Linked DNA regions of Homo sapiens: region 1 is linked to region 2. Evidence: fine-mapped expression QTL. A gene starts in region 2. The other region holds a variant in brackets. All regions are shown on one strand. Distances are from middle to middle.

Region 1 (2,865 bases), 120 kb after region 2:
TATTTACAGCAACAACCAAACTGTACAATCTGATGGTTAGTACCAAGTTAGCATCCAGCATCTTTGTATTTTTTTTAAATCAAGTCATCAGTAGTAAAAACCAGTTAAATTTTTAACCCTTTGCAGGAATTGCTGAGGGGAGAAGACGGGGGAGAATCCACGGCAGAAAAGCCAGAGGCTGGCCTCACAAATGAGAAACAGGAGCCTTTCTTTCCTGCCCACAGCCTCTTTTTCTAGCCACCTGCTCCAGAAGGAAAGTCAGTGACAAGTCTGGAATACATGCTTGGAGTAAATGGTGACTCAGATGAAAAGCAGTCGGCAAAACTGAGGAGAGGGGAGGAGAGGTGGGGAGATGATGGCCTGGGGCAAGGGGAAGGGCGTCAAGCCCCCAAGCCAGGGCTGCTGGGAACACCCAGCCTGTGATGGCCATATCAGACCCCCGGGACTGGACACGAACCCATCCCAACACAAAAAGCAAATAAATAAAACAAATATATTAACTCTCTCTTCACAGGGAGCTGGGGTGGAGTCGGGGAGAAAGAGGAACAGGACCTGGTCCTTTGAAGAAGAGAGCCAATTCCAAGAAGGGGTTAAAAATAGAACATGTCTCAGAGGCCACAGCAGGTTAGACAAAGTAGCATTTGTCTGATTTTGGGGGGTGGGGTGGGTGAGTGGACACCAGAACCCAGACTTGAAACCTGTGCTTGATTGAGCACCCTCAGGGCAGCCGAGCCAGCACTGTGTTTACTCTTCCTCCCCCACCCACATCACAGCAAAGAAGCGCAACTTAACACATGACTGGCCTGCCCGGGGCGCGGGGCGGGCACGAAAAATGAAGCACTTTTGGGTCAGCAACTGAGCAAACACCTGGGCTGCCGCGCACGGCCAGAGTCCAGGAAAAGGAGAGGGGCTGGGGCTGCCCGACCCCCGCCTGGGGGCACAGGCTCCCCTGAAAATGTGTTCATGCAGCATTTGGGGGTCCAGGGGCGCTGAGTCCTTCTGCCCCCTCACCGGACAGGGCTTTTCCAGTTCCTGGGAGAGGCAGTGCGGGCAGGACGAGGCACACCCTTTGCCCTGGCCCCTCACCGTTCTGAGGCCTGCCCGGGTGCAGCCTGAAGGGTGTGAAGCCCTGGCTGCGTGTGGCTTTGTCCTTTCCTTTTGGTGATGGCGTATGAGGGGCAGGCCCCCCAGGAGTCCCTCTCCTCCCAGAGGCACAGCAGATGGGAAACTGAGGAGAGGCTGGGAAGCATCCTGGGAGGTCCTATCCTCTTTGGGAAGGGAAAGGGGAGTCAATTTCCAGCGTATAAAAAAAATGAATCCCTGAAGTCATGAAGAGTGGAGATCCTTTTTTAAATTCTTTTTTTCCTCTTTTCTGAAAAACTTTGTCTTGGAGATGTTGGCCCCAGGGGTCCAAAGTGCAGTGAGGGGAATGGTGGGGGGGG[A/GA]GTTGGCACTAGATGGCCTTAGGTGGGGTGAGTACCCCTCCCGGCAAGGCCCAGGCTCCTCAGATGGACGTTTCGTCGCTGCTGCGGGCAGGCGATGGGGAGCGGGGCAGGATAAAGCACAAGACAGGAGCAGGGCATGAGTGCGGCTGGGGAAGGGAAGGGAGCCTCGGGCGTAGGAACCACGGCCCAGGGTTAATGCAGGAAGTTAAAGAAGAGAAATCTGGAGAGGCAGGAAAGGAAAGTGGCAGAAAAGGCAGACAGAGGGTTAGTTGAAACAGAGGAGAGAGTGAAAGCTTTCACCAGACGAAGGAAACAGGAAAGCACCCCCAGCTCCCCATCCTCCCGCACTCTGCCCTAGGCTGGGCTGCGCCGCGTAGAGCCTAGGAGGGGTGGCCCTCCCCGCAAGGCACCATGGTTTGTGGGCACGGCATAGTAAGGGAGCTGGGCCAGTTCTGCCCATTTGTCCTCCAAATGCCATCCAGAGTCACCTGGGGAGGCCCGGAGGCAGCTCTGGGCCCAGGTGAGGCCTCCGAGGGGCTGCACCCCGTCCCGCCCACCCGGCCACACTCACTCGGAGCCTGACGAGTCCTCATCCACCGTGCCTGCCTTGATGCTCATGGCGATGGGCATGACCCCGTTCAGCTGCTCCTGGAGGCTCTGCCGGGGCGGTGGGCGGGGAGGGGGGCCTCCCCGGCTGCCCTCACTAGCGGAGGAGCCCCGGGAAGACCCTGTGCATTGCTCCAGGGGGAGCCGCAGGAGGCTGCTCTTCTCGCTGATGGTGGGCAGACACTTCTTCTTAAGGATGCCTGTGGGCCGGGGCGGGGCTGTGAGGTGCGGCCACAGGAGAATGTGAGGTATGAGGCTGCTGACTAGGGGAGCTCGGCAGCTGGGGGTGCCCCACTCACCTTTGTGAGGCTGGGCAGAAGAGCCTGGAAGGGGGCCTAGGGACCCCTCTCGAGACAGGGCATCTCCATTCTCCCGCAGCCGCTCCTCAGGGGCCCCGTTGCCACTACTCTCTTTTGCTGTGGTCCCAAAGTCTCCTGGCCAGGGGGCCTTGCCAGGCCCTGGGCCCCCATCTGGTGGGGAAAGGAAGTAGATGAGGCCCACAGAGGGCAGATAGCCAGGAGGCCACCACCCCAGTCCTGCTTCCCAAGAACCCCAGGCCCACTGTCCTCCCACTGGCCCCAAAGGCCACAGCCCCAGTGCTGGCCCACCCTTGGGAGTACTGTGCAGGGGCAGTCTCTCTGCTCCAGGCCCCAGCAGGCTATCCCAGCCCTGCTCTCCAGGGAAGGCGGCCTCCTCTTCCTCCTCCTCTTCTTCCTCCTCACTGTCTGATGAGTGGGTAGAGGCATAGGAGCCACTCTGGTCGTCTTCTAAGGACAGGTCACTGTCGGAGTCCGTGTCAGGATCTAGGAGGCCAGGG
Region 2 (2,900 bases):
TGCTCTACAATGACTATATCCTCATTTGGGTTTATGGCCAGTTTATAATTAAAAGTAATCTTTACTTGCTTTGAGTGTAATGACTTGCATATTTTGTATCTTTCTATTTGCTACCTTTTCTACTGAACAATTTCTAGCTTTCTGAAGGGATGGAGTCAGTAAGCTTAAGGATTCAGAACTGGTTTTACCTGTGCTACGTGTTGTAGAAGTTGTGTGTGCAGCTTCTGCGGTAAAGGGAACAGCGTAGGGGTTTTATTTTATTCATTAGAGGTGGATCGGGGTGCTAATTTAGAGGACATCACATACTGGAACCAAACTTGTCCGAAGCTCTCACTGCAGAGTTAAGGCACTTTGGTAAAATAAATGTGCATCTAGGAAATGATCATGTGTACAGTAGGCATTGGATCATTCTCTTGCCCCTCTTTTACCTGCCCCTAATGCCTAAGCTACATTCGAAGTCCTGGAAAACCTGTAAGTAATTCCGCCTTTGGCCTACCTCCCCTCAGAAGAGGAAGGTGAGAGAGGCCAAACGTATGGAAAGACTATTCTTCAGGCTTGCAGGAGTCACGGATGTCCTGATGTCTGTCTCCGTAGGATGTGGCCCACATCAGTTCGCATTCACCTTCTTGCAGCAAGGCAGCTGCTTAGCAGACAATGGGCGCTCCAGTGAGCGGGGTTTATAAAAACCCGAAGCCCCGGTTCATGATGGAGCCCCCTTTTCCAGCTGAGCAAGCTCAGGGATTTCCTGGGTAGGTTTTTCCAGGCTCTGCCTCACCGAAGGAATTTTAGGAGTGTCTCTGGGGAACAGGAGGGACGTAACCCAGCCCCAACTTGAGGGCGCTAGAGGTGCGGCAAGGGGTCGCGACGCCAGGAGCCCGGGGCTCGGCGGGAAGGTATGAGAAGCTCCTACGTGAACTCCACAAGCCGGGCCCGGGAGACGCCGGGCGAGGCGGGGTTGACCTCAGCAGTCTCTGCCCCGTTCCAGCCAATCAGTCCCGCATCTTAGCATCCGAATCCAGGACCCCCGAAGCCGGAGGCGACGCGAGCCAATGAGGAGTGGGCCGGGGAAGAGGGACAGGCGGCCAGCCTATGGGGCGGAGAGGCCCGGCCGCGCGTATCCAAGGAGCGCCGCGCTCGGCTCGGGGGTGTGGCGCGCGCCGGCGGGGGTGGGCGGGCGCGCCGGGCGGCAGGTGTCGGCGTCGGCGGCATTCGGCGGCGATGGAGCGGCCCTGGGGAGCTGCGGACGGCCTCTCGCGCTGGCCCCATGGCCTCGGCCTCCTCCTCCTCCTGCAGCTGCTGCCGCCGTCGACCCTCAGCCAGGACCGGCTGGACGCGCCGCCGCCGCCCGCTGCGCCGCTGCCGCGCTGGTCTGGCCCCATCGGGGTGAGCTGGGGGCTGCGGGCGGCCGCAGCCGGGGGCGCGTTTCCCCGCGGCGGCCGTTGGCGTCGCAGCGCGCCGGGCGAGGACGAGGAGTGCGGCCGGGTCCGGGACTTCGTCGCCAAGCTGGCCAACAACACGCACCAGGTGAGCGGGCGCCGGGCCCGGGAGCCGCTCGGGTGCGAGGTGCCGCCCGCGTGCCCCTCCCGGCCCGTGCGCCCCGCGACTCCCGGAGGAGACCCCAGCCCTGCCGCGCCCGCGTCCCCCGGGCCGCAGCCCCGAAACTGCGGCGGGCGGGCGGGCGGAGTCGGGCCCGGGCGGCCGGCGGGGCTGTGTTTTGTCATAGGGGAGGCAATCTTAGACTTCCACCGCATTCTTTTTTTTTTTTTTAAGTTGTCAAAATCTCTTGAACATCGTTTTTCGTCTGTATAAATAATCAGGACCCAGTAACGCTGTTAGGCCCCAGGAAGGTGAAGGAGTAATTAACTCTTGAGCGCTTGCAGAAGTTGGGCTGCGCAGAAGCAAAGGTGTGTCCTCTCTGGGTCAGTACTTTCCGGGTGGGAGAGGCGGGAGTTCAGGAGGCCCGAAGCAGCGATCTGGTCACCGTGTTTTAATAGTTAAGGGGACTAGCTTGGAAATGAGATGGCAATATTTATGTGATCTCTTTTACTGCTTCAGATTTGACCTTCTGTCATGGTACGGAAGTCTGACTAGCATGTCTATATCCCGTGGTGACAAGATTTTCAATAGTTAAGAAACGCATTGCACATATTCTGCTTTGAGCCAGCTCTTGGTCAAAAGACTTTCAAAATTATGGGATTTCTGTCCCTGGGGACAAGCAGCTCAACCTTTGCACACTACTGGACTGACAAAACTAATTATTAAGAAAGTCCTGGTTCCTTGCTTCAGCACAACTTGGGCATCTTTCTCCTATTTCTCTAAAATTAACAATTTAATCCTTGCTAGCCACATTTGCATAATGTATTTTCAATTCTATATATTTTCTCCCTTGCCTGTTTTCCTCTTTCAAAGAAAATGAATTGCACTTGGGGGCAGAGATGGGTGGCCAAGGCTCTGTGCCAGCACTTGTCCTTCTGTAACCGTTTTTCAGCGTCAGCCAAGCCTCAGTCTCCCTTTGGACTGCCTGGTTATCTGGACCATACTTGTTACCTGTAATAGAATTCTCTGATCTGAGGACACAAGACACAAATATTCAGGAATAATTGTGCTTAGTGTATCCCGAGCAGCAGCTGTGTAAAGGTAGCCAAGCTAGTGCTGGAGGGTGAGACAGGTTGGGTAGAATGAGTACTGGGAAGTCTTCCTACTTGATGAGAAAAAAAAATCGAATAGACTTCCTTCTCACAGTGGGGGATTGAGAAAGGCTTTACAACACTAATGCTTAATTTATACTGGACCACTTCCTTCCTTGAGCTAGCTGGTCACAGCATTCTTGCTCCATATTTCAAATTCTTCTCTCGCTGGTTGACCTAACTTTAGGTCTGCTGCTACTCCTGGATTTAGAT

Alleles and levels. Positions count from the first base shown, and alleles are read on the strand shown. Sizes are in standard deviations (SD) of each study's normalised expression.
With allele GA in place of A in region 1, the expression in sun-exposed skin of the gene that starts at base 1,193 in region 2 is higher (small effect, 0.20 SD a copy in GTEx).

What was found. PIP is the estimated chance that this variant, and not a neighbour inherited with it, causes the effect.
Region 1: its variant is fine-mapped to the expression of SORT1 in sun-exposed skin (GTEx, PIP above 0.99).

Annotation. Positions count from the first base shown.
Region 1 is chr1:109,272,819-109,275,683 of GRCh38, reverse strand. CELSR2 (cadherin EGF LAG seven-pass G-type receptor 2) reads right to left here. Exons shown (of 34, transcript NM_001408.3): 31 at 2,657-2,851; 32 at 2,348-2,518; 33 at 2,014-2,248; 34 at 1-1,662. The coding sequence ends at 1,635. Among named protein-coding and RNA genes, the nearest start is that of PSRC1, 8.9 kb to the left of the region's middle. RefSeq lists cis regulatory regions at 716, 701-720 and an enhancer at 1-1,432. The variant A/GA (reference allele first, on the strand shown) is at 1,443.
Region 2 is chr1:109,396,211-109,399,110 of GRCh38, reverse strand. It overlaps SORT1 (sortilin 1), which reads left to right and starts at 1,193. Exons shown (of 20, transcript NM_002959.7): 1 at 1,193-1,524. The coding sequence starts at 1,219. PSMA5 (proteasome 20S subunit alpha 5) reads left to right here. Exons shown (of 9, transcript NM_002790.4): 9 at 1-69. RefSeq lists an enhancer at 59-1,040 and silencers at 1,067-1,196, 1,237-1,306, 1,317-1,416.